Regions from separate parts of the Homo sapiens genome. Here regions 1, 2 and 3 are each linked to region 4. Evidence: fine-mapped expression QTL. A gene starts in region 4. Each other region holds a variant in brackets. All regions are shown on one strand. Distances are between the middles of the regions.

Region 1 (8,032 bases), 790 kb after region 4:
CAGTGGTGTGATCTCAGCTCACTACGACTTCCGCCTCTTGGGCTCAAATGATCCTCCCACCTCAGCGTCCCCAGTAGCTTGGACTACAGGCATGCACTACCATGCCTGGCTAATGTTTTTTATTTTTTGTATAGATGAAGTCTTGCTATGTTGCCAGGGCTGGTCTTGAACTCCTGGGCTCAAGCAATCCTTCTGCCTCGGCCTCCTAAAGTGCTGGGATTACAGGCATGAGCCACCACACCCAGCCTTTTTTTTTTTTTTTTAAACTCAATCTTCCTTTCAAAAGTCTTTAAAAAACTTTAGAATCAAGTCACAAATGTCCAAATGTATACTTTTTTTATCTTTTTAAAGAACACCTTGTTGTTGATTTATTTTCCGTACATAAATCGTGTTCCACCAACTGTAAGCAGCTTGAAGACTAACCATTGGACTCATTCAATAGAATTTTCTGGAGCACTGCTATCTGCCAGCACGGTTCTGGAGGATACGCCTGGCATTTTTTAGCATGATATAGTATTCATTTCTACTTCCAGAAGTAACTATTCCAGGCAGCCCTGTCACTCTTATGTTATGGTGTGTGTGGAACTTAGCAGTTGTTCCCTGCCATGCCATCCTCACTAATAACAGGAACTGGGAAGAAATGCCCCAGTTTTGGTGAGGTGGTCATCTGACCCTGCTTATAACGACAAAAATAAGACAATAAAGCAAAGTCATTTTAAACTCTTCAAGCTTAAAAAAATTACATTAGACTAATATTTGTTGATCATTGTTTTAAGCACTTTTAGACTTACCTATTTTGGGCTTCAGAGCAATTTCATGAGGCAGGTATTACAGTCCTCAGGAGAGACAGGCTTTGCAGCCAGACACACCATTTACTATGTGTCTCCTTGGCATCTGACTCAATCTCGCTAGGTCCCTATTCCATTTTGTCACAGTGAGGAGAAGGATACATACCTTGCGGGATTGTATTGAGGATTAAATGAGATCATGAAGGTTAGAAACCTGGCACAAGGTTGGCATTCAAAAATGGAGCTTGTTGGCTGGGCGCGGTGGCTCACTCACGCCTCTGATCCCAGCACTTTGGGAGGCCAAGGTGGGCAGATCACCTAAAGTCAGGAGTTTGAAACGAGCCTGGCCAATATGATGAAACCCCGTCTCTACTAAAAATACAAGAATTAGCTGGGCGCAGTGGGATGTGTCTGTAATCCCAGCTACTGAGGCAGGAGAATTGCTTGAACTTGAGAGGTGGAGTTTGCAGCAAACCAAGATTGCACCACTACACTCCAGCCTGGGCGAACAGGACAAGGCTCCATCTCAAAAAACAAACAAACAAAAAAAAATAGAGGTTGTTTCTTGCAGATGGTACAGGAGGCTCAGAGAAGTTGGCAACTTGCCTGATGTTAAACTCCAACTGGGGTCTCACTAAACTAACTGCGCCGGCTGGGAAACCACTGGGATACGCTGCTGCATAGAAAGAGGGAGAGAAATTCTCTCTCCTCTCCCACCCATTCTCTCTCACATCCCCTGGGTCATGCCAACCTGTCCACATTTGCTAAGGGGAGACAGTGAAGGAGAGGGTCGACATCTAGTTGCCCTCTCAGCCACCATGGATAGGCAGAAGGGACCTTGGTTGAGTGAGCCTGGCCTGTTGGATGTCTGCAGACACAGCCTTTGCTAATTCCTTGTAAATGTGATAGTTGCCCTCACCTGGTGTTCCCTAAGGTTTATTTCTCTCCTCACAGACACCAACGTGATTCGGTATATCCAGCTGACGGAGATGAAACTCAGCCGATGCTCCCAGAGAGAAAAAGAAGCCATGTAACCAGGAAGCAGCTCCAGAGCTGCGCCCACGCCTGACCGGGGACTTCCAGGCATCCCCTGGCAGAGAGCCCCGTCCTGGATTCTGTCCCTTTCTCCCCACTTCTTCTGGCTCCTCATTTTTCCTCCTGTTGCACCCCAGCTCTTTGTCTCCTCCCAGTACGAAAAGGAGAGATGCAAATTTGGAATCTGGTAGGTCGCCCAGACAATGGAGACATCCTCTCCTCTAGCAGGTCAGCGACTGAGAGGGGCCTGACTTCTGCTGGGACAGCTGGAGAGGAGTCTCATGGGCTGGGATGCTGTTGTGGCTTTGACTTTGGCCAGTGCTTCTGACAGAGGCGGAGCCTGGCAAGTGTACCATCCCACAGGCAGCAGGCACACAGCCCATGGGCTGGATCCTTCCACACTTTCCTGACAGACCAGAACCAGAGCATCTCGAGGCAACTGTTAGAAATCCAGGGACGAGACAAACAGAGAAGCGCTGGTGAAGCCAACATAGAGACTGTCAATGTGTACACTGGAGTTCCCACCCCCACCCCCCACCCGTCACTTAGCCCCTGCCTCCTTCCCCCACTCGTTGTCTTGGCTTGTGCTTTCTCCTCTCCCCATCGGGGATCCGAGACTCTGCCAGGATTCACATGCCACTGAAGCCCACTCAGTGCCCTCTGGTGACCACACATACCATTCCCCCGGACTCCCACCCAGCAGGCAGCTGTGACCGCAGAAGGGCAGGATGAAGTGGGCCAAGGTTTGGGACAGGTTGACTGTGTAGGTGACAGGGAGGGAAAGATGATGGCCAGGGGAAAGAGCATCGTATAGGCTAGGGGATTGAACTGTGGACTGATTCAGTGTAAATAAAAACAAATTAACAGGTAGTAGTTCCTGTCAGTTCTGTTGGAAGCAGCCCACTCCCTCACTTTTACTCCTTCCTCCAACCCTCAATCAGAGCTACTTACAGCCAGGCAGGATGGGGCTTTCCCCAAAGCAATTGGCCGTTTGTCCAGTGGCAGACAATGGTGGCTACAGCCTTTGTGCTTTTAAGAGTGGGCTGGGATTGTGGAGACTGCCCAGGGGCTTGGCTTTGTCAGAACTTGTACAATCTTCTTTTGATGAAATTATCTGAACTCAACATCTAGCACATAGAATGTGTTCAACAAATGCTTGTTGAATGAATAAATTATGACTGCAGACTGGCTCTCCTGCCTTAAACTAATTTCATCCCAGCCTAGTCTCCTGATGTCTGTGCTCGTTATGCTATGCCATGTTGCTTCAGTCAAACAAGAAACACTTACTGAGGGCATATTGTTTGCCCATCATTGTGCAATATGCTGTGGGACATGGGATGTCGTCTCAGTCTTCAAGGAAATGGAAGGGTTAAGAAATGCATATGAGATTATTACCAATGACACCGTTAATTTATATGATGCTTTAAAATTATCAGAGCACTTTCATGTATTTTTCGTGTGACTAGTGAAAAAGACAATGTTGTACAAAATTAAAATATATACAGATGCAATAATGTGAATAGTTAGGATTTATTAAATGCATTATCTTCAGATCTTTACATGTATAATCTCATTTCTTTCATGCAGTTACTCTGGGATACTGTTCCCATTTGATGGGTAAGAATATTGAAAACCAGAAAAATTAATTATCCCAAGGTTGCATGGCCTTTAGTGGCATAGCTAGGATTTGAACCAGGCCTGCCTGACTCCAGAGCTCTGGCTAGTATCTATGCTATACTTAGTTGCCTCTCTGTAAGTATAATATTGGGCAATTATAACCATTTGAGAACAGGACAATATGTATTAACCTGAAAAGTGTTCATGATGTCAGTGATAGTACATGGCCTCCTTATGTATTTACTCAAGGGCCCCAAAAGACCAGAGGCCAGAATCCCTAGTAGTCAGAGCAGTGACAGGTCAGAAAAAGGCAGCTGAGGTCCAATAGTTATGTCTGTGTATTGCTCATTCTACTTACTGATGGAGCCAGCATGTATCTCAACAACTCACCTAGCATTCATCACCCATCCCCAGCATTGGGAAAGGGTCACAATTAAGACCGAAAGGAAACACAAAGTTAAATATGGGTTAATTATGTAAGCAGATGCCCCACCACGGCAGGATCCAATCACAGCCGAGGGGCCCAGAAGAGAGCAGCGTAAGTTATATTCACATAGTTCCCCAAAGGCTTTCAACGGGGGCTACAGGAAGGTGCTAGAAATATTGAGGGGCCTGCCATTACTCACCTAGAGCTCACTCTCTGGAGAAGAGGAAAAGGAAG[A/G]AGCTATTTCAGCTGCCACATTCTCCCCAATCCCTACTATATTATGCTGTCTTTCCTCTTCCTCCTAGCTGGCTTTACATGACCCTAACCCAAAACTACCCTATGGCCCCACACGGGAATGTGTTCAAACGCCCCGACCCCCACCCCCACCCCCATTCCCAAGCCTCCAACTTAGAACGTTTGTGATTTGGCAGATGGTTTGTTAGGATCTGAAGGATGAAGAGAAGGGTAGAGGTCACCTGGAGAATGAGTTCAAACTGCCAGGGTCTTCCCTTGGTCTTTGTGCGTCAGGAAGGACTCCGAGTAATTATTCCCTATGCAGAGACAGGAGAGAGGTCTTGTTTACATGAGTGTGCTGGGGCAGGGCTGGACAATCCAGGATATGATTGTAGCCATCCCATGTAGAAAGATCAAAAACCAGAACGAAATGAAGACAGCCTCTCAGAACCTCATAGAACAAGCGTCCAGGTCATCTGCTTGTTTGGTGACTTAGATATACAGGCTTACTGGAACTCCATTCACTGTGACCTGAAGTTAAATAATCCCAAAGAGAAAAAGCTACCTGGGGTATTGGTTGATGTTTGGGGTGATAGGGCTGAATTTTCTGTGCATTTGTCCAACAAAGGCTTTAGAGCACAAAACCAGGTTCATTCTCCCTACCAAATCTTCAGCTTCCTTCTCCTCATCCCTCCCCAAAACAAGAACTGTGATTTAATTCCGTACGTTGCGGATGTCACTGCTGACCTATGTAGCTGGAGTACTAATCAGGCATCTGACCTGCACTGTCATCCCCTGCCTGGACTTTTGCGATGGACTCTTTGGGGGAAAAACTAACGCTTTTTAATTATTGTGAAAGCATCATGTGTGTATTGTAGAAGTTTTAGGAAAAAAAGGACAAAATCCAATCCATAAGCTTACCACCCAAGACAAACGTGTATTCTTTTGAATATACCTTTTAGTTCTTTTTGGTGTAAATGTACACACGCACACACAGTTGTGGATTTTTTTAAACAAAAACTGGATACACTGAATATACTCTTTAATAACTTTTCAAGTGTGTATTTATATTTTAGAATATGTAATCCTACACAGATACAAAATTCAAAAAGTACAAACTGCTCTGTAGTCAGAAGTAAATCTTCTCCCTACCCCGTCTGCCAGCATCTAGTTTCCCTCTAATTTATTTTGCATCCTAGTGGAGATGCTTACACATTGTCAAACATATGTATATATTCTTTTATCACACACAAATGGCAGCATATTGGACACTTTTTGTTTTTTGCTCCTTCTGTTCCTTCACTTAATAATATCACGAACATTTTCGGCATATCAAACTTTCTCAACAGCATCTTCATTGTATGGATGGACCCTTTTTTTATCATCAATCCTCAAATAGTGATTATTTCATTTGTTCCCAATCTTCATTGTAAATAGTGTTGCAACTGACATTCTTGTAGCTAAATTTTGCACATGTCTATAACGATTTCCTTAGGATAAACTCCAAGAAGAGACTTGCTTGGCTATTTTTAAGAATTTTGATACATGTTGCCAACCACCCTCCAGAAAGTTTGTACCAAAACGCTCTCCTATTTGGATCCTAGAGAGTACCCTGTTTCCTGCACCCTAACACTAGGTATCATCACTTATCAAATCTTTCCCAATTTGGTAGCTGGGATAATAGTATGTCAATGTTATTTTAACTTTCTTTGATTCTTCGCGAATAACATTTTCATATGCTTATTGACCATTTGTACTTCTTTCTTTGTGAATTTTCTATTTATTTGATATTGGTATGTTTATTATCAATTTGTAATTTTATTAAGAATATTATTTTTGTCAAGAAATGCTGCAAATATGCTTTCCAAGTGCTTTGCTTTCAAATTTTGTTTATGGTGCTTTTTGACATACATAAATTCTTAATTCTGCAATTAATTCGTTCCTCTGTTGCCAGCTTCTCCTGCCTACAGTTCATTCTCTTATTTCTATCAGAGTGACCCTTCCAAAACACAGTTTGACCATGTCACTCCACAACTTCAGCACTTTGGGAGGCCAAGGTGGGTGGATCACAAGGTCAGGAGTTCAAGACCAGCCTGGCCAAGATGGTGAAACCCCATCTCTTCTAAAATACACACCCACAAAAAAATCAGCTGGGTGCGGTGGCAGGCACCTGTAATCCCAGCTACTCAGGAGGCTGAGGCAGGAGAATCACTTGAACCTGGGCATCAGAGGTTGCAGTGAGCCGAGATCACGCCACTCCACTCCAGCCTGGGCAACAGAGTGAGACTCTGTCTCAGGAAAAATAAAATCTTTAGTAGCGCCTCGTCACTTCTAGGATAAAGTCCAAACTCCTTAACAACACACACGGTCTTTCATATTTTGTCTCCACTGATCTTTCCAGCCTCACTTCCTGGTCCTCTTCCCAAAGTATCCTACATTCCACTGCTGTGCAGCTTCTTTTGCCGCCCTGAGCCATTGTGCTGGGTCTCTGGGCCTTTCCACGCTATTCCTTCCCTCTGCCTCATCGGCTATTCCTTAGCCCTTCAGTCCTCTCTACCTTGCTAACTCCTATAGGCCTTCATTCAGGATCACTGCTAGAAAGCCTTCCTTGGTCCTTTAGTCTGAATTCTTAAAGCAACACAAGCCTACCTCAGCCTAGCTTTTGCTACAACAAATTAGAGTTTCTAGTTTACATTCATCTCCCGCACGCCCTGGGTGTCCCTCAAGGCAGGCACTGTGGTATATTCATCTTTGCAGCCAGAATGTTGAGCACCATGCCTGGCACATTGTAGGTACTCAGAAAACGTTGAGCATTCAGCCTGGAATGAAGGAATAATGGGTTCAGTGGCAAATGTTACTGGAGGTAAATGCAGGGCTGAACTAGATCTGTGCTTCTGAGAAATGAAGATCTCCTAAGAGACTTGGGTCAGAAGAGAAGCCACGTGCTGCAGCCCTGTGCTTTCCAAGATATCAGAATCACTAGGAAGAGCTTTTTAAAAATACATAATCTCAGGCTCTACCTTAGACCCATTGAATCAGATTCACAGGAATAGTGTTCAGGATAGTTTTTTGAATGCCATGAGGTAACCAGCCAGGTTAAGGGGCCACTGCTGAGGCCCAGCAAACTTGAGAGCACGCCGCTCCACTATTTCAAACCATGTGACATTTTACAGTGGATAGACGGAGTTTTGTTTGAATACCAGCTTTAACATCTGCTAGCTGTGTGACCCTGGTGCAGTTGTTTAACTTTTCTGACCCTCATTTTCCTCGCCCATACATGGGGAGAATGTTTTGTTTTGTGTTCCAAGATGGAGTCTTGCTCTGTCGCCCAGGGTGGAGTGTGGTGGCACGGTCTCCGTTCACCGCAACCTCCGCCTCCCAGGTTCAAGCAATTCTCCTGCCTCAGCCTCCCGAGTAGCTGGGATTACAGGCACACACTACCATGCCCAGCTAATTTTTGTATTTTTAGTAGAGAGAGGCTTTCACCAATTTGGCCAGGCTGGGGGAAAATGTTTTATCCCTTAAAAGGGTGTGGGGAGGACTAAGAAATAAGTATCTCCCAGCTCAGTGGCTGGCACAGAATAAGCACAGAAAAAACATTTATTTCCTTCCCCCACCCTCCCTGGCCTCAGTTTCCTTGTTTATAGTGTGGCTGCTAATACTTGCACGTTCACCTTCCACATTCCCCCTCTCTGCACTGTAGAAGGAAGGGAACCTTCCAAGAGGCCCTTGGGTTACTCTCTGCTCAAGCAGGACAAGTACTTGGAGGTGGGGAGTAGAAAGACAGAGGAAGCTTCATACTCCAACCCATGCCTCTCCAGGCTTCAAAGAGACTCCACAGCAATCAGTTGGAATAATTCTGATGGTTCTCGGAATCAGCTGTCTTCCAGTCACATCCAACGATAAACGCTGTTTTCTTCCTAACAGTCCACCC
Region 2 (8,032 bases), 34 kb after region 4:
TGTGCTCACTTCAAATGTGAAAGCTGACTATAATATTGCACAGTTACCTGTATGCAGGTAAGTGAGCCTGTGGGTGGCCCTTTCCTGATGTTTCACACCCTTGGATGAGGTCTTGCATCTTCTTGGTGGCTGCTGTGCTGGAGGGTAGTGGGAACACGGACAGACTCTGGCCGCAGGACAGCCTGTGTTTAGACGAAGAATAGGAAAGAACACAGTAGACCCCTGGGAATCTGCTAGCCAGGTCTGGGAGGGCCTGGGCCTCAGCATCCTCTTTGCTTTCCTCATCTGGCCTTTTGACAGTGCCTTGGGATCTGTGGGTGCCGTGCTGGCCTTCCAGTGCTCTCTGACAGGTCTTCCTATTAGTGTTGGAGGCTGGATGAGGAGATCATTCTGGTTTATTGTGGTAACCTCCTTAGGTACAATTAGGACTTGGGGCAGGCTGGGCTCAAAACAGTGTAGGGGAGTTGTTTTTCAGTTTTGTTTCTCTTTCCTTGCCTCTTTTCTTTTAATCTTAGGTTCTGGGGTGTGGGGGTGTGTGTGTGTGAGACAAGTCTATTTGGAAGAACTGTATTCTCCCAATTGTTTCTTTGAAATGTCCCTCTCTTCTTCTTCTCTGCCTCCCAGCACTTTATACTCACCTCTTCTAAAGTCCTCTATGGTGATGGATTGGCTCGTTCACTGTAGATTTATCTCTTTGCTCCACTAGACTATGGGTGGACTCCTTCAGGTCAGGGACTCCATATTTCCAACTATACCGAAAGAACTCAGAAGACAGGGACTGTCTTAAATCTCCATACTCCTAGGGCTCAGCACTTTATCAAGTGCTGAAAAATTATCTATTGGTGATGGCACCAAGCAGCATATCATCATAAATATGTGAGTTTTTGGTGTCCCTGAATCATGGTGCATATTCACTCTATATGCTTTGTTATTTTACTTCAGCGTGTGAAATATCGCCTTATGATCTGAACATGTAATACACTGTGTCTGATAGCAGGAATTGGCTGAGCTCTTCCTTATTTTTTGTGGTAGACTTCTCTAAGCAAATACATTTCCTCTGATGGACTTCACTTTGAGTTTACAGGCAGGTACATCCAATGCTGACCTCCGAAGTTCCCACTGCAGTGTCTAGGTGGTGGAAAGTTTGGCATGGCCAGGAAACAGCTTTAAGCTCAGAGGGTAGCATTGGGAAAGGATGATTTCTGGCAAGGATTTATGTAAAAGCTTTTCAAAATTGTGACTGTATCTTAAATGAATACTCAGTTTCTTGTTTTTGTAAAGAGCTATTTTCCATTGGAGAACAACCTTAGATTTTATGTTATGCTGTGTAAAAAGCTTCCAGAAAATGTCAGGGTATTTTCCAAAGGTACCCTAGGAGGTAGAAGCAATGAAAACACTTAAAAAATCTGTATTCTCATGGATATTGGCCATTTAATTTGTTTATCATTGATTCTTCGGCCAAAGATAATTCTAACTGGGTGAGAATGAGGACTGGGGAGTGAGACAGCAGAGGTTTTTGGGTCTAGCACTCCCCAGGACAGGACTCCATTGATTATTAGTCAAGAGGACGTGATTGGAGACCAAATTTCTTTTTCTTTGCTCACATGTCATTCACTCCTTTGAACCATGTTTCCTAACCTGGAGCAGATGGTTTCCTCCTGGCGACAGATCATCTGCCTCTGCTTTCTGTGTTAGCTTATGTTTTCAGGTTTATGTGGAACAATTCTAGATAGAGGAAATTACTTAGGGGAAAAAAGATTTAATATGATGAACATGTTTTATGGATCAAGTCCTATGTTAGGTGTTTTACATAGACTCTCATTTATTTCTGTCAACTGGTTCTGCAAAAGGAACCGATTTTCATTCCCACTTACGATTGAGCAAACCGAGGTGCAGAGAATTCAAGAAAAGTACTTAGGCCCCTGGGAAGAGTCTGGATTTGAATCTGAGTCTGTCTAGTTGCAAAGTCCTGTGCTTTCCAATGTACCATGCTGCCTTAATAGCACAGCACAGCAAGATTCAGGTCACCCACACAGGTGGGTGGAAAGAAACGGTTGGGAAGAAACCTTTCTGGACAGGTTTTTATTATATTTTGAACATCTAGGGTAGAGTATACGATGGCCAGGCAGGAGGCATGAAGCTGGCAAAGCCACTTTGGCACCTTCTGCCTATAAGACAGCCTCTGTTTATTTCATGCCAGAGAATGTGGAGAGTGGCTTAAATGATTTATGTTTGAAGGATTTTTTTTTTTTTGGTTGACAAAAATGCCTCTATTGCAATAAGCCTTGGATACTCAATTTTTAATAAACTGGGCTCAGCAGCTGCATAGGGTCAAGAGAGACAGACTGTGTGTATGCCGAGGAGGTGTCAAGTCAAATGCACCTCTGGTCAGGATCCCTCCTGAGCAGACGGATTTTCCATGGCCTGACTTGTAGGGATTAACCCTGGATATTCAGGACTTGAGGGTACGCTGTCCTCTGGGAGGCCATCAAGGATAGCTGTTTGGAAGCCTGAGACTGGGGACTTTAGTGGGAGCGGGTCTGTTGTCTGTGTTATTACCAGGGAGTTTCCAAGGACGGAGACTGTTATAAGCTATAGATTTAAGACTGACACATTGAACTGTATCCAGACTCCATGTTACCCTGGGCAGATCCTCAAGTCCTGGGAGTTGGGCAGCTGCAAAGGCCAGTAGCAGGGAGTCATCATGGAACTTGTTGCTAATGTTTATGCAGTGGCCTGTATGGCGCAGCATACAATATAGCTATTGTTCTGTGTTTCAGGAGTGCCAGTTAGTGGCTGGTGTTAAAATGTGTCCAGGATTTGGATGGAGAATCCTCTCTGTCTACCACTGTGTTAGATTTTGGAGGGATATCCAGACTGTGCCTGGGGGTAAAGGCTGGAGATGGAATAGGTTAGGGCAGATACTGAGACTGGGCCCAAGGTAGAAGGCCCAGGAGAGCCATGTGGCCCAGAGATCACATATTTAAACTTTCAAAGTTTATTTCAAAATTAATATACAGTAAATGCAACACAGTTTTTGGTGAACAGTTACATGAATTTTGACAATGCATACAGTTGTGTAACCACCACAATCAAGACACAGAGCAGTTCCATCCTTGCTCCGCACCCCAAATCTCTTGTTTGCTCCTTTTCATTGACTCCCTCTACCTTAACCCCTGACAACCAGTGGTCTGTTTTCTTTCTCTAGAGTTTCACCTTTTCTAAAAGGATGTTACATAAGTGGAATTATGTAGTATTTTGAGTCTGGCTGCTTTCATGTACTATAATGCATTTGCCATTCATCCATGTTCTTGCATATATTGGTAGTTCCTTTTTATTGGCTGAGTAGTATTCCATGATGTGAATGTATCATGGTTTGTTCATGCATTCACCAGATGAAGGACATTTGGGTTGTTTCCAGTTTTTGGCAATTATGAATAAAGCTGTTAGAAACATTAAAGTATAGGTTTTTGTATGAACATAAGTGTTCACTTCTGTTGAGTAGATACTTTGAGTGGGATTGCTGGGTCATATGGTAAATGTATGGCTAACTTTATGAGAAACTGCCACACTGTTTTCCAGAGTGACTGTACCATTTCGCATCCCCACCATCCATGTATGAGGGGTCTAGTTGCTCTGCATTCTAGCCAGCACTTGGTATTGTTGATATTTTTTATGTATTTATATTTATTTTTAGCATTCTAATAGTATGTGGTATCTCATTATGATTTTAATTTGCATTTCTATTTAAATGTTTTGGATGTTGTTTCCAAATGAAGTCATGTGTATAGTCACTATTGTCAGGATTGAAAGAAGTAAATAGCACAAGTATATTGAATTGTATTTTTGACTGCTGTTAACAGATGCTCAACCATAGATGAGGCACAATTTCCTTTTCCTTTAAATTTTAGGCATGGTCTTGCTCTGTCACTCAGGCTGGAGTGTAGTTGCATGATCATAGCTCACTGCAACCTTGAACTCCCGGCTTCAAGCAATCCTCCTGTCTCAGCCTCCTGGGTAGCTGGGACTAAAGGCATGCACCACTACACCTGGCTAATTAAAAAAATTTTTTTTGTAGAGCCGGTGTTTTGCTGTGTTGCCTGAGCCGGTCTCTAACTACTGGCCTCATGCAGTCCTCC[C/G]GTGTTCAGCCTCCTAAAGTGCTGAGATTACAGGCATGAGTCACTGTACCCAGCCAAGGCATAATTATACATCATTCACATAAAGGAATTCCAGCTGTAGACTATTCAGAGGTGATAGGTGGCCAGGGACCCAGGTTCCCACTTTCTGTGTCATCATCCTTCAGTTGTGGCTTGCTTTCTCAAGGTCACAAGATGGTTGCTGGAGCTCCAGCCATAACACTTGCTTTCCAGGCAGGAGAGAGGGAAAAGGAAAAGGCCCTCAGTTTTTTTTTCCCCATGGTAGAAGAGCCTTGCATTCTTTCACCCTCCTGGTTGCGTCCCTCCTCGGGCTGCAGTTTGTCTTTAACCTTCAGTTTGTGTGGCTACTTTCTGCTTAGGAGAAATTGTCAGGCTTTCCCTTATTTCACTAGGAAATATCCAGGCCTGTTTATTTTTCACTTTAAACACAATTTGAATAAGCCTATTACTTTCAGTTCCTTTGAAAACTGGAAGCTTCAAATTAGAAAGTGGGAGGAACGATGGCTAATGGCTGGCATGTGGAGACACAGATCATGCACAGTTTGACAACGAAGAAGGGTAGAAAAAACCCAGATTATAGCTTAAGGCCAGTGAGTGTGGGGGCAAACAGCTCTGCATGGCTTCAAAGCCTTTGGCACCTTGATTGTGTGGTTCTATCTGTAGGGTTGTCTTGCTGGGTAACAAAATCATTCCTCTATCTCTTTCCGCTCTGCTAGACTGTGTGTCTTCTCCTGTGGGTGGGAACATGGTACATTTTCCACTGATATCCAGTGTTCTATGTACTCTTATACATGTGAATTATGTACTCCTTACCAGCTTCCTAGGAAGACAAAATAAGCAAAATATGATTGGATGTTTCAGGGAACCTTAGCATTAGGGCTGCCAGATAAAATACAGGGCACCTAGTTAAATTCGAATTTCAGATAAACAATGAATTGGCGTGTGTGTGTGTGTGTGCGTGTGTGTGTGTTCCAAACAGTACATGGGACACACTTATACTAAACAATATATTCCTTGCTTTTCTAAAATTCAGAGTAACTAGTCATTGTGTATTTTTATTTGGTAAATCTGACCAACCTACTTGGAATACATGAGTGTCAGGAGAAGGCCCTGCAGTTGGTGGGGTAGAATTGATTTAAATGAAACAGCCTGGGCACAGTGGTGGAAATATTTGTTGATCCGATTTTGCTCTTGAGTGTGGGACTTCTGATGCTCTTCTGAAGCAAGAGGAAATCAATTTCTTTTCATGGCTGCTAATAAGCTAGCTCAATACAGCAGCCCTGAGAAAAACCCTGGCTAGAGTTTTAAGAGTCCTAGGAATGACATGAGGTTTATGTTTCCTTATCTCCTTGGCTCATTCCTTGCCTGTTTAGAGAAGCTTTTTAGAGTATATGTCTTCTGTCTGTTTATACATTGGAACCTAGAGTTAGAGTGGAAATGCTCAAGTTCACTACAGAGTCATGAATAAGATCCTGATCATGTGGGTATAATGAGCTTCCTAAACCAGTGGTTCTCAAAGTATGGTCACTAGACCAGCAGCATCATTATCACCAAGGAACTTTGAAGATGTGCAGATTTGATCCCCAGCAAAGACCCCTTGAATCAGTAAGTCTAGGCGTGGGGCCCAGCAGGCTGTCATTAACAAGCCCTGGGCGTGATTCTGATGCTCCTAAAGTTTGAGAACCACTGCTATAAATTAGGGGTCTGTAAACTTTTTCTGGAGCAGATGGTAAATATTTTAGGCTTTGTGGGGTATAGGGTCTCTGTTGCAAATACTAAACTCTGCCACTATAGTGCAAAAGCAGCCACAGTTAATATGTAAAAGAAAAGAATGGGCATAGCTAAGTTATAAAGTAAATAAAGCCTTATATTTACAAAAATGGGGAGCTGGGCCAGATTTGTGCACCCATTTCCCCACAGTAGTTTGCAGACCCCTGAAAAAACTAAAAGGCATCTTCAGAGTAGTCAGACTTGCTTGTTACTTGCCTCGTCTATTTAGTGATACATTCAAAATGCTCCTTAACACCCACACGATCAGAAGTGGGAGACACCAGTAGGAAGGAAACAAACAAACAAACAAACAAACAAACACAAAGCTGCCTAGGTCTGGTGAAGTAGCCATTATCATGCGAGAAGATGCCCAGTGACCAGAGATATCTGTCCCTCTCTAAGTCTTACCTGGTTTCCAACTGTAATGCTTATTAATGAGACCTTTCTGACTGTTCTCACTAGAAATTTGTTCTTACTTATCCCAAGTGCTGCCTGACAGTTCTGTTCTCTTCCTCTAGTCCATTCATGCTTCTGGTGTGCTGGAAGACTAGTTTACGTATTCTTTTTTCTAATTTATTTTATTCATTCATTCATTCATTCATTCATTCATTCATTCTGTTGCCCAGGCTGGAGTGCAATTGCATGATCTTGGCTCGCTGCAACCTCCGCCTCCTGGGTTCAAGTGATTCTCCTGCTTCAGCCTCCCAGGTAGCTGGAATTATAGCCGCCCACCACCACGCCCGGCTAATTTTTTGTATTTTTAGTAAAGATGGGGTTTCACCATGTTGGCCAGGCTGGTCTCCAACTCCTGACCTCAGGTGATCCACCCGCTTCAGCCTCCCAAAGTGCTGGGATTGCAGGCTTGAGCCACCGCGCCCGGCCAGTTTACACATTCTGTCCTCAAACTTCCAACACATTGGTCCTCCTTCTTCAATCTCAGCCTTGCTTCCTCTTTCACTGAGAAATCCAGGCAATGGAAGATAGTTTCTTCAGGTTACCATTACTGTATCTCTGAATCTACCCATGTCTGTGCCCTGAACCTCCTGTCACTGTGGATGAACTGCTGTTGCATCTGTACGGGGCAAACCCCTCCACTTTTGTGCTAGGTCGTATCTCGTACTTACTCAAGGACATTACTGTAGCCACTGTCTCCTGTCTTCTGTGTTACTATCCACCACCTCCCACTAGATCATTTCCTTGTTGTCAAACCTATTATAATTTCTACCTTGTCACCTTTTTATTAGCATCCCATTTCTCTGCTGTCCTTGGCAGCAAAACTCCCTATAATGGTCTATACATGCTTTCCCTGATCCCTTGTCTCTGTCTTCTCTTGAACTTACACCTCTCAGGCTTGTGTCTCCATTACGTCCCTGAAACAACTTGTCAGTGTCACCAATGACCTCCAAGCTGGCTAATGTGCAGATACAGGCAATGTTCAGACCTCATTGTACTGGGTTTTTAGCAGCTCTTGACACAGTTAATCACTGCCTCCATCATGGGACACTTTCCTCAGTTTCTGGGACATTACTTGGTTCTCTTCCTACTTGCCTAGATGCTCCCACTTAGTCTTATCTCCTGGCTCCCCCTCATCTCTCTCACCCATAAATGGTATAGTTCCTCAGGGCTCAGCCCTAGGAACACTCCCTATTCTCATTCCTTTGCTTATCTTTTCTAATTTTATGGTTTAAATAGCATCTCTATGCAGACATATCTCAAATCTATGTCTCTAGTCTGGATATAGCCATACCTACATATCTGCCTTCTTGCTCAACATCTCTATGTGGGCGTCTGATAGGCATCTGAAACCAACATGAAACCAAAAGCCCAGATTTTCCCTACCAACCTTACCAAACCCATTTACCCATTCCTCAACTCAATAAATGACAGCTCCATCTTTAGAGGTGCGACGAAACCTTCAGAGTCATCCTTGACCCTCCTCTTTCTCTCATATCCCAAATCATATCCATCAGCACATCCTAGTGATTCTACTCTAAAAATGTGTCCAGAATCTACCCGCTTCTTGCCACCTCTGCTGCTATAGCCTGGTCCAAGCCGTTAGGCTCTCTCCTCAGGATAACTGCAGTAGTTGCCACACTGGTCTTCTC
Region 3 (8,032 bases), 110 kb after region 4:
CATATAACTTTTATAAAAGTACATTGTTATAATTATTCTATTTTATTATTAGTTATTATTGTTCATCTATACCGTGCCTAATTTATAAATAAACCTTTATCATAGGTATGTATGGGGAAAAAACAGGATGTATAGGGTTCGGTTCTATCCGCGGTTGAAGGCATCCACTGGGGGTCTTGGAAGGTATCTGCTGTGAGTAAGGTGGGATCCCCTATCCATCTATACCCTGGAAAAATACTCAGCAATAAAAAGGAATGAATTGTTGATATATGCAACCACAACTTGAGTGGATCTCAAGGGCATTATGCAACATGAAAAGAGCCCATTTCAAAAGGTTGTATATTGCATGATTCCATTTATATAACAGTCTAGAAATGACAGCATTATAGAGATGGAGAACAGATTAGTGGTTGCCAGGTGTGAGGAATGGGGTGGAGGAGGGAAAGTGTGACAGTAAAAGTGGCACAAGGGAGATCTTTGTGCTGATGGAATAGTTCTAGGCTGATGGTGGTGGTGGTTACCTGAGTCTACACGTGGATAAAATTGCAGAGAACGATACACACAAATGAGTGCATTTAAAACTGGTAGAATCTGAATAAGGTCCATGGATTATATGAATATCAGTGTCCCGATTTTGATTTTGTACTAATTATGCCACCCAGATAATTAAAGAGCTTACCCATATCATTATGCTAACTATAAAGCCGTTACCATTGGGGGAAACTGGGTGAGGGGTACACAGGACCTCTCTGTATTATCTTTGCAACTTCCTGTGAATCGATAATCATTTCAAAATAAAAAGTTAAAAAAACATTAGCCGAGTCTTCTGTGTGAACCCAGCCCTGACCAGGCTCCTCTGCTGCCGGTGCTTCCTCTTCCTCTTCTGTCCCCAGTTTGCCTTTTCCCCAGCCTTCTGTTTTTGCTCTTCTTCAGCTCAAGGATGTGAGAACTGCCTGCAAAAAGGCAGCTTTCAGCTTGTTTTCACTTCTTTTGGGAGGGAACATGCAGGTAGGTATACGGAATATAAAACACTGACCTCCTGCTTTGGAAAGAACCTGACATGCCCGACCACTTCTGCTCCTACAGATCAGAATCAGGACAGTTCACCATCCATTTCTGAGCCTCGCTGGTCATGGCGCATGCATCTCAGGAAATGTTGAGGTGGCCTAGCATTCCATCCTCCTCTGGGTCTGATTCAGGGCAGGCTCTTAAGGGACTTTTGCAAACAGACACTGTTGTCTCCTTACGATGCCCAGAATGAGTTGTCTCCACTTCCACATTGAGCCTCAGAATCACATGTGGAGGGGGATGGTGGCTCTGGCATAAATGTGGTCCCTTCAAAGCAAGAACCTTCGAGCACTTCTACCAGGCTGAAGTTTATCTCCATGTCTTTTTCAAAGATGGACAATGGCAGCCTGAAAGAATATGAGGGAGGGTCACCAGTGATGGACATGGTTTGGGGAGAGCCCAAGAATTGAAGGGGACTTGGGATTGTTGACAGACCTTCCACATCTCAGAATGGGGGAAGTGGTTTCTTTTTTCCTCATTCTCCAAGGCTTCTCAGTCTCAGAGACCCCAAGAGATGCCATTAATACAGATTCCTCCTCTGGCTCCTTTGAGACATTTGCTTTTGAAGGACCTGGAAGAGAAAGCTCTTTGTATGTGGCCAGAATAAACTCATTGTACACCCAAACAATTAACTCCTCAATGGACTTGCCAGCCCCTTGAAAGGCCTGGCCCTGCGTCCCTGGACCTCTTGGGCTCTATTCAGTCCCTTAAGCACACCAATGTTTTTGGGTTTTTGTTTTGTTTTGTTTGTTATTCTGAAAAGTCTTTCCCTGAGAATAGTCTGAGCGGATCAACATTGTCCTCAGCCTGGCATTTATCTCTCCTCGCCAGCGAATGTCAATCAGGAATCAAAAAGCCAAACAGAGGAGGCTTTGAACGGTGTCATCGGGGGTCGAAGTGACTTCCAGCTGTCTGTGCGTGGGCCAGGCCTTCTCGCAGGGCAAGGAATTGTGCTGTCACACAAACCCACTGTCTGTATAGGCTCACAGAGCCCATGCGGGGGCTGCAACTTTCTGGGGCTGCACCTGCAAGGACAAGGCGTGACTGGGGGTTGGGGAATCTCCGGAGGCCAAATGCCAGGGCTCTGGGACCAGGCAGTTTCCAAAGCTGCTTGCTGCCTCTGGGACCTTGATCAAATCACTTACTTGCATTGTTATTCAATTCTCTTTTTATCTGCCTGGTTTCTCCCTCCGCCCTGGCTGGTGGTGAGAATAGATGAGGAAAGCTACCTGCCAGGAACTGAGTGTTGCAAAGTGTGGTAATACTATTATTACCGTTGCTCTTGACATCCTCCTTGAGAATTCTTTCAGTTTGCCTTATTTGTTGTTTGTTTTCATGTTTCCAAATTTGCCTTTTTTCTCCCTCCCTGTAAGAAAAAGGATAATCTTTGAATTGGCTTTTTTTTTTTCAGTGTTTATCCTCTTCCTTTTAATATGGAAGATTATTATAGTATTAAAGAGAAATACTCTCTGAGGTCCAAAAGAATCACGAAGAATATACACCAAACATCATCACATGCATATACAGATTCACATACATTTTTCTTTAAAACAGTGGAAGAGTCTTCCCCCAAATTAAGGACCACTCAAATAATCTAGCTGCTGCTGCCTCATGATTTATTTGTGATGACTTGGGCACACCTCCCTTTTTGTTTTAACAGCTTTATTGAAGTATAGTTTACATACCGTAAAATTCACTCATTGTAAATATACAACCCAATGAATTTAATAAATTCATAGTGTTGTACAATTGTCACCAGAGAACATCTCCATCACCCCAAAAAGCAACCTTGAACCCATTCACAGGTATTTTCTACTCCTACCTGTAGCTCTAGGCACCCCCAGATCTGTTTTCTGTGTCTATAGATGTAGCCTTACTAGACATTTCATATAGATGGAATCATACAACATGTGGTATTTACATCTGGATTTTTATACTTAGCATAATGTCTTTGAGATTCTTCATCTACATTGTCACATGTATTAGTAATTCATTCCTTTTAATTGCTGAATAGTATGCTATCATATGGATATATCACAATTTATTCACCAGTGGACAGACATTTGGATTGTTTTCAGTTTGAAGCTTTAATGAATAATGCTGCAGTGAATATTTCTATACATGTCTTTGTGTGGGCATGTTTTTATTCTCCTAGATGGATTCTAGGAGTGGAATTTTGGGGTTAAAAGTTGATGTTTAGCTTTTTAAAGAGACTGTCAAACTCCTTTCCAAAGTGGATGCCCAGTTGTACATTCTCACCAGCAATGAACAAGGGTTCCATTTCCTCCACATCCTTACCAACACTTAATATTGTCTATCTTTTTATTTTAGCCATTCTAGTGGCTGTTTAGAAGTATCTTGTTGTGGTTTTAATTTGTACCTTCCTAATGATTAACAATGTTGGATATCTTTTCATGTATTTATTAGCCATCTGTATCTCTTCTTTGGTGAAATGTCTGTCAAAATATGTTGTCCATATTTAAATAAGGTTGCTTGTTATTGAGTTGTAAGGTTTACCTTATTTTCAATTTAAAAACTTTGATAGGATTTTAATTTTGTAAACCCAATTTTAAAAGTAAGCAGTTGAATAAGATGGTTTGCACTCATGGAATTATAGATGCCCTTTAGTGGGCCTTTAAAGTGTTTTACACCTACACAAAAAAGTGTCCCGAGATTTTGTAGGCAGGTATCCTTCAATTTTAGAAGAGGATATTGCTATCCAGAGAAGTAAAAGGAGGGGCTCAACTTATCCAGAGTAAACTTATTACATGTGAAGGGGGATTTGGAGTGTGACTCCCCTTAAGACTGGGAGGCAGGAGCACATATAGAAACCTTGTTCTCTCCCCAGTGCCCAGTGTGGGGCCTGGTGTTGCTCCAGGGCTTGCCTGGAAGCAGAACTGATGTAGACCTTGGACCTAGGCCTTGGACTTGTGTTTGGTAGAAGAGGTGCTCTTATTTGCTGGGTCAGAAGCCAGGAGCCCAGGTGCCCGGAGATGATGGTTAGAGGGTGCTGTTCGCTTTGGCTTGGCTTCCCAGCCTTTGAGCATGCTGGAT[G/T]TCACAGGTGATTCCTGGCAGCAGGGCATCTTGTCTTTTCTCACTTCATAAAGATTTCCATTTAGGACCTCCCCGTGGCAGAGCAGCTGTATCTCTTCACCCTCAGTGACCCTACCCTGCAGGAAGATTCCTTCCCTGCAAGTGGCTTTATGCCTCATGGGCTTCTCTGACTACATCTGGGAAATCTGTGGAGGTCCTTGACCTGCAAAAGGGCAAAGCTTCCCCAAAAAACCTTTTTGCCCTCCTTGAGTGCAGACCTTCTTTGCTGATGGCTGGGCCCGATGGGCAGTCCAAGATTTTCATCTGGATGATGGGAGAAATAAACAGAATGTTTTCAGTTGTCTTGCTCCAGAGAAGAGATACAGTTCTTGTAATATGGGAGGATTTTCATACCTACATTGAATATTAAAATATTACATAAGCCATATGCACTTGAGTTCTCATTATCATCCCTCCTGGAATGTTTGATTTTTCACTTTCCCTTTGTTAGCCTGTAAGACTCCTAAAATGAAGCCACCCTGTGTGGAAGGGCTGAGCACACTGTGCTGGACTATTTAGACTGTGAACTCTGTATCTGGCAGGCACAACCAAATGTGCATTGCAGCTGCCAAAAGACTCAATTCAGTGGCTCATTGAATTCAATGGAAAGAGGTGTTAATAGAGTCAGGGGAAGTGATGCTATTAAAAAAATGACATTGTGTGGCTCTGTTCTGTGTTTATTCTCCCTCAAAGACTTCCAGATCAAACTCACACAGTTTGGCATCAAAAGATGCCTGTTTTGGACTCCAGTTTGAGGCAAATAGTATATCCAGCATAGATACTCTTCTCTTCCTGCTACATCTCATTTCTTGGGATGATTGTCAGATAATTCAGGATCACTTTGGCTTCTGCAAGAGTTGGGTCTTGGTGTCAGTACATGAGAATAATATCAGGGTCAGGTGTCACCCGACTGTCAGCTCAGCTGCTGGCCTCAGCCTCTAACAAGGGTTAGAGTCTCCATAGCTCTTGAATCTTAAGCTCCCAAGGGTGAGATGTTGATGCAAAAAGGAGATCAGGACTCTGTATTCTCTCTCCCTCCCCCAATAAGATGCACGAAAGTCGGCCAAAGGTACTGAGAGCTCCAAATGGTAGAGGGTTGTTATTATTGATGATCTGACTGGCGTCACAGAGACTATCTGAGAACTTGCAATCTGCATAAATAGTTAATGCTCAGAGAATATAGTGTTCCATCCTAAAAGACCTCTAAGGGGTCTTGAGAAGAGAGGGATGGTGTAATCATCAAACCGCCTGAGACAACAGTGCTCTCCTTCCCTCCCCCCGTGGAGAGAAATCTCTTAAACTATATAACCTTAAGAGGGACAAAGATACCCTCTCCAAGCCTTCTCTAAGGGGGTAAAATTATTTCTTAGGGGATGAAAAACACTCATTTTACATATGAAGCACAAATATATATACTGTTTCTTTGCATTATTAAAATTTTATTAGGGAGATGATTAGGAAAAAATTACCTAAAAATGCTCCTTAGATGAGTGATAATGGAAAAAAGGTTGAGAAATACTGCTATAAGCTAAGGTTTTTGGGGCCCTGATGAAAGAACTCAGAGTCCTGGAAGGTAAATAAAGTCTGCACTAACTCCTGACCTGCAGAGGTTCTTGCTGTGCAGAGAGGACTGCCAACACTATTAGAATGATAAGCATTAGGACTTTGTTACTGGGAGCTCCCTGCTCCAATCATCTATGTTAGAAATTTCAAAGCAAGTCTAGGGTGATTTCTGCAAAGTCCCATGTCCTCTCCCATTTTGCTTGCCCTCCCTCTTATTGGGAATTGGGGTGTTTGCTATTTCACAGTTAGAAGCATTCTAATGATTCCTGATTCTCTTCAGTTCCGTGTGCTGGAGAGAGAATGGTTCTTCCTGCCTTCTTATCTGTTTTAGGTGAAAGTGGAGAAACAGTGAGGAGATTGGAAGGGAATGGCACACAGGTCTCTTGTTTTCCTTGAGCTCTTTAATCAGGGCCACTGAGCTGGTAGCTTTAGGGCAGGAAAGGAGCTGGGGACACCATAATTTGATGCCATAAGGATTGCCAACCTTATGCTAACATGCCTGGCCATAACTCAGGGCTGAGGGGGAGATACTGCCTCCCAGTTTTCCTGCGGGAACAAGGGCCAGCAGAGTCATACTGGTATCCTCAGATTTGTGAGAAACGGTCCCCCAAAGCCACGAAGCTTTAACTCCTTTCGTCCATGCCTTGGGATGGTGAACACACACCTGGATTTGTTTTGTTGTTTTGTCTCTCTATGGTTCTCTTTTCCTTCTTGCCCTTTTCTTCTTTTGTTTCTTTTTCTTTGTTCTCTTCACTGGGACTTGGCCGGGCCTTGTACAAACCCCAACCATTCAACAGTGCTGGAGAGTAGATAGTATTTACCTCAATAATGGTAGTCTCCTTTCGATTCTTTTTAACCCTCAATTCAGATGACGGGTCTAAGCCGACACCCACGATGGAGACCCAGCCGGTGTTCGATGGAGATGGTAAGATCTTGCATTACTTCTGATGTTCATTCTCCCACTCATTTTCAGGTTTGGGAAAAGTCTTAACGTTGGATGTTTGTTTAAGTTTTATTATTATTATTTTCTTTTTTAATTTCAATTTTTCCCAGTGTAAGCTGGGTTGTTTTAACCTTTTTAAAAAATGCAGATCCTCCCAGGAATTGGTACACTCTCCACTTCTGGAAGGGCCCTCTGTTCTCTCAGGCTTCCTGCCTGTCTCCTGGTGTCCAACAATAACACAGCCTGGACAGACCCTTGGAGCTGCCAAGACCCAGGAATCACAGCTGAGAAAGATAGTCAGGCCGGCAGTGTCCCTTCAGTAAATTAATTGGCACTTGCAAGTGTCCACTCTGTGCCTGGCACTGTGTGAGCCCCTCTGGGGGATGAAAAGGAGGTTTGGAGATGTAAACCTTTGCTCTCAAGACAGCTGCAACTCTTAGAGTGCTTTAAATTACGGGGTCTCCGTTCTTATTGTCATAGACATTTATGGAAGAAAGAGATCACCATGGTCTGGGAAAAGCTTTTGTGAAGAGCCAGGACTTGAGCTGGATCTTGAAAGTGGTGGGGAGGAGTCTGAGTGTTCCAGGCAGGGTGCTGGCATGGACAAGAGGGGAATGAGGTAGGGATGGGATACAGTGAGGAAAGTTGCAGGAAGGAGATTGGCCAGTGGGACTGGTTTGTGTAGGTTGTAGGGACGTTGAGAGTTGAGGCAGGACATTTTGGAGAGGAGAAATTCTAGGTCAAGAGAAATTGTGGCTGGTGGCAAAAGAGAGGCTGGAAGTCTCTGGAGGCATAGAGAGAGGATAGGAGTGCGGGGTGCAGGAGGTTCAAGTTGGAGGTGCTCAGGGCCTGTACTCTAAAGTTTACTGTACTGAGTACTCCATATTCCCTTGATGAGGAACTGGAAGTTTGGCAGAGTGAAGTCTCTAAAGTATGACAATAAGGTTGGGATTTTAGTGCAATATGTAGCAAACTTTGAGCAGCTCCTAGCTAAGCGTATCCAGCCCTGGATCATGAGACTGGGCAGAGTGACAGAAGAATAAAAAGAAATCATGCCACGGGTTAACACTGTGGCTATGGATGTCCCTAGCACAAGCTTAGCTCTGAGGAGGATTGAAATGTGCAATATCCTTTGCAATCAGCTCACTTATGGGAAGTTTTGTATGTTCATGTCTAAAAGTTTAGATGTAGATGTCTCTGTGATCCACAAAGGTCCTGGATCATTGACAAGTCTGGGACCCTGGGGGGTCAGGTGAGGGATGGAGACTGTCTCATCTTGGGAGACCTCCCCAATACCCTCATTGAAGGTCACTCCACAGTATGCTCAGGTCACTTAGGATTCCCATCTGTCCACTGGGTGACCAA
Region 4 (8,032 bases):
CATGAGGGTTTCACCCTCATGACCTCACCTAATCCTTTTTTTTTTGACTGTATATCATCATCATCTAATCATAATTATCTCCCAAAGGACTCATCTCCCAAGGCCATCACATGGAGCTGGTAGACTTTCAACATATGAATTTCAGGGAGACATATTTAGTCCATAAGAGCCATTAATATTTTCGAGTACCAGGGAGCTGGGTCTGCAGAACTAGAGGTAAACCACAGCTTGAATGCTGTGGCCTCCTTTTGTTTGGCAACTCAAGGACGACTCATGAGGATGGCCTCTACTTCTAATTGTGTCCCAGAATTGTATCCTTTCTTAGTAACATAAACGTTGACTTTTAGCTGTACACATGTGGTCACCTCCAATTAGGATTACATTTTTTAAAGCCCTTTTTTGCTGAATGTGGTCATATGACCAAGTTCTAGCCAATGAGACAAAATGAAACGTGACTTCTGGGAGGTGTCCTTAAAAAGAGGAGCATGCTCTTCTTTCCTCTTTTTCCTTCCTGTTGGCTGGAAAATAGATATGATGGCTGGGGCTTAAGCAATCATCTTGTACCACCAGGTAGAGCTGCTTATTATGACAGAGAAATAATAGAAGGAGCCTGGCTTGGAGGAAGCTGCCCGAAACTTTCAATGGAGTTGTGTACCAAAGAGAGAGCTAAATTTCTAAATTGTTTGTCACTCGAATTATTTTTGTCATGTGTATTTAAAGCTAAAGGAGTGACTTTGGTAAGGTTAAATGTCTGCGGGTAAACTTCATTTGCACACTGGGACTAATAATACTTACCTTAGCCTAATGCTAAGGTTACAGCAAGTTAGTCATAAATCTAAAAGCAGAACCTAGGAATCTTAATGTCTCAAGCTTCTAAGCTCACTAGTGTTTTTGACAAAAGTCTTGGACCTTAGATACAGTGTACCTCTTTCCATTGGTAGCTATTGTAACAAATGAAGCAAATATAAATCAGGATATATTTATGTTATAGAAGCACTCTGCTCCAGAGCCTCATTCAGGATCTACCTCCATCATGAGACCTTCCTGCCCATTAGGCCTACAGTGGGTCATCTCACTCTGAGTTCCTACAACACACTGCAGGCTTTACTCTTTTTTTTTTGAGACGGAGTCTCACTCTGTCGCCCAGGCTGGAGTGCAGTGGCGCAATCTCGGCTCACTGCCAGCTCCGCCTCCCAGGTTCACGCCATTCTCCTGCCTCAGCCTCCCCAGTAGCTGGGACTACAGGCGCCCGCCACCACACCTGGCTAATTTTTTGTATTTTTAGTAGAGATGGGGTTTCACCGTGTTCGCCAGGATGGTCTCCATCTCCTGACCTTGTGATCTGCCCTCCTCGGCCTCCCAAAGTGCTGGGATTACAGGCATGAACCACCGTGCCTGGCCAGCTTTACTCTTAAATGTGGTCCCCAGGTATCTCTCTGGTCTGTGTCTTAAATTAGATGGTAACCTCTCAGAGGGCTGGGTGTGCATCCAAAGATCCATCATAATAATGAACATTGTGCAAGGCGTAGAAGGAGGTGCATCAAAGTGCTTACTAAAAATGGATGAAAAGATTCTATTCTGAAGATGAGATGAGGAAAGAATCCTCTGGATTATATAGAAACACAGATATATATATATATATTTCTTTTTTTCTAGATGGAGTCTCGCTCTGTTGCCCAGGCTGGAGGGCAGTGGTATGATCTTGACTCACTGCAACCTCCATCTCCCAAGCAATTCTCCTGCATCAGCCTCCCGAGTAGCTGGGATTACAGGCATACACCACTGCACCCGGCTAATTTTTCTATTTTTAGTGGAGATGAGGTTTTGCCATGTTGGCCAGTCTGGTCTCAAACTCCTGGCCTCAAGTGATCTGCCCACATCGGACTGTCAAAGTGCTGGGATTACAGGGGTGAGCCACCGCGCCTGGCCAGAAACACAGATATATTTGAAACTGGCATTTCTAGTTAGTACTAAATATTTGAGGCCTTCAGACCTCAATCTGTGATATAAAGTATTAATTTTCATCTACTGAAATATCCCATTGCAAATAGAAGTCCCACAAGACAAGGAGTATGACTGAAACTGGACAAACCAGATGCCAAGATAGTCAGATTATTTTTGGACCATGAGTCTGGCCTCCAGGGAAAGAAGAAACTTGTCAATTTTACTTTTTTTGCTTGGATCAGAAGATTAAGCCTGGCAGAGAGATACTGTTTGGGACTAGTGGTTCTCTGGAATTCCTAACCTTCTCTGGGCTTGGGAGGAGTTGGGAGAAGAAAATGCATCATCTGAATGATGGCCATGGTTACAACAGGCCTCATATGCCAACCAGAGGGAAAGAAAATACTTGCTGAGCAGAGTAACTGGAAAGCAGTTGCTCATAGTTTGAACTAAACTACATGATTGAAATCCAGAATAATGTAGATTTTTGGACCAGTGAACACTTGGAAATAAGCTTTCTGGCTGGAAAGCAGCATTTGATGTTAGGGATGGAAAGGGCTATTGCAATGCTTTTTCCCTGGGCACTTTGTGCTGCCAGATACTCAGGGCCATCTGAAGCATATTTACTTACTCCAGCAGATTTCTCAATAGTTCCAGCAACAGGAAGGAGTTGACCAGCTTGATAGGTGAATGTAGCCAGGTGGTAGAGTCAGGAAAAGCCTGTCACACTGCTGAGCCCGATGGTAACAGTTCCATCCTGTTGAGCCCCTGGAGGGTGAACACTTAGGTGGACACATGGATATTGATGTCAGTGCTGCACAGGGCACGGTACTGGACAAGTGTCACAAGTCCAGCTGGGCAAACTCCAGGATGCCAGGTCACAAGGGCTGTTTCCAGGAAGGGCTGACCCCTGATGTTTACATCCTTTTCCTCTGAAGCTCAGTGGAGCTCACCAGTCTCAGTTCACCTTGTAGGCCACTGAAGAAATTCCCAATTAGCACAGAGGAACGTCCAACCCTATGGGATTTGAGACTGGAGATTGCAGCCATCACATGATGGAAGCAGAATTAGACTCCAAAAACCTTGCCTTGAGTCTCGGCGTCTCGGCTCTGTCATTTGCCAGCCAAATGAGGCCAGGCAAGTCACAATCTCATGGAGTATTCACTTATCTACCTGTAAAGTAGGAATGTCTGACCTATTTCAGAAGATTGTTCTGAGGATAAAATGAGATGAGGCATTTGTCCTGTCCTCTTCAAATGCCATATTGTGATACTTTTCACTTAATTATTTTAAGGGCTTTAAAGACTCCATCTCCTTTACTTTTGACAACATCTCATGGCAGGGGATACTATTTTTATCCCCATTTTACAGAGAGAAAAACGGGACCCTGGATGAGTCAAGTGACTTCTTCAAGCTTATACCACTAGGTGGCAGACTCAGGATTTGAACCCTGCTGTACAGCTCCAGAGTCTGTCTGACCAAAGCACTCATTCCCAGTGGAGGAAAAGATAGACCATTCTTTTAGAAGTGCGCTTCATTTTTGTTTGGAGAACCACAAGTACTTTGTTATTGTTCCAGCATCCAGTCTGAGCTTTCTTGTCAGAGGGCAATGGGGAGAGGGGAAGTCGTTTAAGCAGGGAATGGTGAGTTCCGGTTTGCTGCTTAAAAGGATCACTGGCTTCTAAATAGCGAATAGACACACTGGCTGCCGTGTGGAGGTTGGATGGGGCCAGTGTGGAGAGAGGGCAAAACTGAATTCAGGAGTCAGGTGCGAAGCTGTTTCATGGAATCCAGGAGAGAAGCCCTGAGGGAGCAGAGCTAATCTTAGGACCTCTCAGACCAGATAGGGAGGGGGAGTGTGGCACTGATGCTTACAATCAAATTATAGAAAAGAATCCCTCCCTGCGAAGTAGCCCATACTGATGGAAGTAAGCACTAAAGGTTGTTCTCCACATAAGGAGATCGCTCTGGGTTTCATTTTGCGCCCCCCCGCCCCCTTCCCTGTGATTTCCTGGAGATGTCAGTCTCACTGAAGGCAGCTGAGCACCTTGCTCTGTTGAGGAGCCGGTGTGATGCAGCTGTGACCATTCCCAAGATGGCCTTCCGGGGATGGCCCTGGGCAGAGCCCCCCAACATCTGACTGAAGCTCCGCTGAGCTGTCCTCTCCAAGAGGGTCGGGCACCCGGGAGAGATCTCCTCTCCTTGTTCTACCCCATCTCTGGGATCTCTGCATCCTCAGACTGCCGCCTCCTCATCTATACTTTTCCTCCTTGTCTCCCATCAGGGGACCAGGGCCTCTCTGCCCGCCTCTTCCAGAGCTGCTGGGCTATAGAGAGGCTGCCCCTTGCCCTCCAGTTCAGAGGGGGAAGCTAGGATGCCTGAGTTCCAATCCTGGATCATACGGACCATAGGGCTGGGAGATGTGTGTGTGTGTGTGTGTGTGTGTGTGTGTGTGTGTGTGTGTGTGTGTGTGTGTAGGGGGTTACCGTACCCAAGAGGCCCTCCCCAGCGGCCAATGCCCAGCACACGCTTCACCTTGTCCCTTGCGACTTCTCCCGGGGCAGCCGCTGTGAGACTCAGGATGTCACCTCCCAGGGAGAGTCTTTGAAAGAAGTGGATGCTCCCATTCCCCACTCCAACGCCACAGCCCACCCTGTGCGGGTCATCCAGCGACTTCCCAGTTACTCTTCCCAGATGCAGCAGGGAGGCAGATCTCTCGGCGCCTTCGTGTCACAGCATTCTCATCTGATAAATGGGGCTAGGAGTATTTTCCCTGCCTACTTCACCAGGATGTTGGGACAATCACGAGCTTGAGCTAAGAAATATACATGCTTAAGGCATTATTATTAGCCAGGTGAGCCTTCTGGTGGGTGCCGGCTGCTGGGGCTCTCTCAGGCTTCCTCGGGCAGGAGTGCCGGGAGAAAGTTACTCTTTATCCCACTCTCTCCCGGGGCCTACTCCCGCGGAGCTCCTCGGCGGGGGGTTGACCACGAGTGGCTCCTCTTGCCCCTCTCCCATTGGCTTTCACCTGCCAGAGGGTCGGCTTCAACAGGCCTCTTGGCCCGTCAATCAGGCCCGCCGTGCTCCGCCCCGCCCCTCCCGGGGGTTTATAACGGGAATTCCCATGGCCCGGGCTCAGGCGTCCAACCTGCTGCCGCCTGGGCCCCGCCGAGCGGAGCTAGCGCCGCGCGCAGAGCACACGCTCGCGCTCCAGCTCCCCTCCTGCGCGGTTCATGACTGTGTCCCCTGACCGCAGCCTCTGCGAGCCCCCGCCGCAGGACCACGGCCCGCTCCCCGCCGCCGCGAGGGCCCCGAGCGAAGGAAGGAAGGGAGGCGCGCTGTGCGCCCCGCGGAGCCCGCGAACCCCGCTCGCTGCCGGCTGCCCAGCCTGGCTGGCACCATGCTGCCCGCGCGCTGCGCCCGCCTGCTCACGCCCCACTTGCTGCTGGTGTTGGTGCAGCTGTCCCCTGCTCGCGGCCACCGCACCACAGGCCCCAGGGTAAGTGCGCCCCCAGCTTTGCGCCCACCTGCGGAGGGAGGGGAGGTTGCTTCCCCCCTCATCCCTGAGGGAAGGAGGAGGGGGAAGAGAGATGTCAGAGACCTGTTGTCCTCTGTCTACTACCAGGTCCCCTGCGGGCTTGGTGAAGTTGCTGAAATATTTTTTTTCTCCCATTGGAGCCACCACCACTCTCCCTTTCTTGACCCACCATCCCTCCCCTGTCCCCGAACTGTCACTGGTGGGTTTTCTTTCCCAATCTCTTCTCTCCTGCATTTTGCTCAAGACCCTCAGAGGTGCCTCCTGCGTCGGAGAGAAGCTCGCTCTCCGCTCATGCAGGGCTTCCCTGTGGTCTCACGCTGGCGCCCGGTCCAGCGCGCTGGAGTTGTTGGCAGGCGGCGGGGGTTGGGACGGGGGCGGGTGCAGCTCTGCCTGGAGAGTTTTAGGTTACCCGCGAGCCACACAAGGACCTTGTGTTGTTGTTTTAAAAAGCGATCACTGCTCGTAAAACCCACAGCAGATAATTTTAATGTCACCTCCTGCCGGGCAGGCACTGGAAGAGGGTCAGAGGTGGGGTACTGTAAAGAGGTGGGAGGGGAGAGTTGCGCAATGTTCAGGGGTCTCTCCCCCTGGGTTCAGTGCTGGGAGGTTGAATTACTCGTTGAACCTTGGTCTGATTGGAGTTTCTGAACGACATGAAACCTGCCAATTCTGTGCACAGGACAGATTGTCCAGGGCATTGTAAAATCTCCTGGAACCGACAGTATTGTGTTCATTTCTGGTCTAGATTATCCCCGCAACACCCCCCACCAATTGGTCTAATAAAGAATTTCACTGCCTTGAAACATGTACTATTAAACGACCTAGTGGTTCTTTTGACCAAACTTAATCCAGGCAATCTCTGGCCAAGCATCAGTTTATGTCAGGGCAATTGACTCTTAACTGGCAGCCTGAGAGTCCATGTGAAAGTAGCTAGGATCTTTGTGAAAACAAGGTTGGCTCAACCAACTCGTGCTTTCTTTCTTGAACATCCTTGGGCCTGGCCCTTTACCACCTGTTCAGATTGCAGGTTGTTTATTCATAGCTTTTACTATATGAGAATCATCTTTATAGCTGTCGTGTGGAGAAAAAGTCTTGCAATGCTTGACAAGTCTTAATGACTGCCCAGATGCTGGGTTGATTACATCCAAGCCCAGGTATCACTGTGAGATCAGATTTGCAGCCATTTAGGAAAGAAAAGTGTTTGTCCCCGTGTTGGGCCAGCCCTTGCTTTTATGACCAGATGTGCAACAGCAGCAGTTAAAGTGTGGCAGATTAGATCCAGGGCGTGTCATAAATCCTCGACAGCAGGCATTCCCAAAGCTGGGGCAAGTAAGGGCTCCAGGAGTGACTTTTATGGATGCAGATGAGGATGCCTTTTAAATGAAGCTGCTTGGTTTGATATTAGGACTCAGAGCTCTTAAACTCTGAGGTCAGGCGAGCCATGCGTTCCCTCCAATAATTAGGAACAGTCAAGACAGAGATGCAGACCAGAGCACCCCGACTGAAATCTGGATGGCCGCCCACAGGAGGGTCGAAAGGAGAGAGGCCCTGAGACAAATGGTGGGGGGCTCGTTTGTTTGCTGCTGGGCTTGTCTAGAGTCTCAAGCCATATGGCTCTCCTTCCTGGCCTCCTGGAATCAGAGGAAGCAACCTTTAGGGGAAAGCTAGGGACTTGAGGGGAAATCAGGCACCGTGGTTAGGTTCCTTCCAGCTCCTCTAGTTTATTAATTTGATAGAAGTGATGGAACGTAAGCAGGAATTGTAAATAGGCTGGTGTATGTCCAAGCTGCTTCACACTCTCTCTCTCCTTCTTTCTTTTTTTCCCTCTTTCTCTCTCTCACTCAAATACATACATGCACAAACACACACACACATGTGCACACACATCTTGGTGTGTTTAGAAAGTACCAAGGAGAAGGTGCTGTCTCGAGCATGTGGTTACCTGGTTGTGTTTATAGATAACAATAAGAGCTACCACTTATGAACATCTGGGCTGGGCACTTTACATGATCTCTTACTCGAACGAGAACAAGAAGTTGGGTCTTTTAAAAGCCATTTTACAGATGACAAAGTGAGACTCAGGGTGGCCAATCGACTTGCCTGAGCTTCCAGTTTATATGGATTGAAAAGTTGTGTGCTCTCCCCACCACCAGGCAGCTATAGTGAGTGTTCATCCGAGTGATGCTGTTTCTGTTAAAGAAAGAGATGGCTCGATGAGAAATACAGAACCCGGATACATCAGGGGAGTCTGCAGAGAAATTGTTAATATTTTTTTGGTGTCTGTATCACTTAAGGCAAATGACTGAATTTCAACCTATCCCCAAAGACTCCAGTTCTTTTCTATGGCTTATTGGGGGCCTCAAAAGTGTAGCTCTGGTTGTTGAGAGCGGCGTCATCCGAGGAGCAGAAACATCTGGCTTGTTGCATTATTCCCTGTGGGCGCTCCTAAGTCTCTTCTGTTAATCTTTTGAGTGACAGAGGCTTAAGGATTGGCATCTTTTCCAGCTGGCTTTCTAGGAAACCAAGAGCATGCCCTTTCAGTTTAACTTTATC

Alleles and levels. Alleles are on the strand shown, and positions count from the first base shown. SD is a standard deviation of normalised expression in the study named. Not every link is listed here.
For the expression in atrial appendage of the gene that starts at base 5,079 in region 4, allele G in region 3 goes with a higher level than allele T (small effect, 0.20 SD a copy in GTEx).

The links. PIP is the estimated chance that this variant, and not a neighbour inherited with it, causes the effect.
Region 1: its variant is the best candidate, but not a certain one, in a credible set for the expression of SMOC1 in atrial appendage (GTEx, PIP 0.65).
Region 2: its variant is the best candidate, but not a certain one, in a credible set for the expression of SMOC1 in tibial artery (GTEx, PIP 0.66).
Region 3: its variant is the best candidate, but not a certain one, in a credible set for the expression of SMOC1 in atrial appendage (GTEx, PIP 0.83).

Annotation. Positions count from the first base shown.
Region 1 is chr14:70,669,334-70,677,365 of GRCh38, forward strand. It overlaps TTC9 (tetratricopeptide repeat domain 9), which reads left to right. Exons shown (of 3, transcript NM_015351.2): 3 at 1,743-6,033. The coding sequence ends at 1,822. Among named protein-coding and RNA genes, the nearest start is that of LINC01269, 25 kb to the right of the region's middle. The variant A/G (reference allele first, on the strand shown) is at 4,102.
Region 2 is chr14:69,908,359-69,916,390 of GRCh38, forward strand. All of the region lies in intron 1 of SMOC1 (SPARC related modular calcium binding 1), which reads left to right. Among named protein-coding and RNA genes, the nearest start is that of SMOC1, 33 kb to the left of the region's middle. The variant C/G (reference allele first, on the strand shown) is at 4,140.
Region 3 is chr14:69,985,825-69,993,856 of GRCh38, forward strand. It overlaps SMOC1 (SPARC related modular calcium binding 1), which reads left to right. Exons shown (of 12, transcript NM_001034852.3): 6 at 6,593-6,649. Among named protein-coding and RNA genes, the nearest start is that of SNORD169, 12 kb to the left of the region's middle. RefSeq lists an enhancer at 1,536-2,037. The variant G/T (reference allele first, on the strand shown) is at 4,123.
Region 4 is chr14:69,874,338-69,882,369 of GRCh38, forward strand. It overlaps SMOC1 (SPARC related modular calcium binding 1), which reads left to right and starts at 5,079. Exons shown (of 12, transcript NM_001034852.3): 1 at 5,079-5,440. The coding sequence starts at 5,342. RefSeq lists a silencer at 5,177-5,266.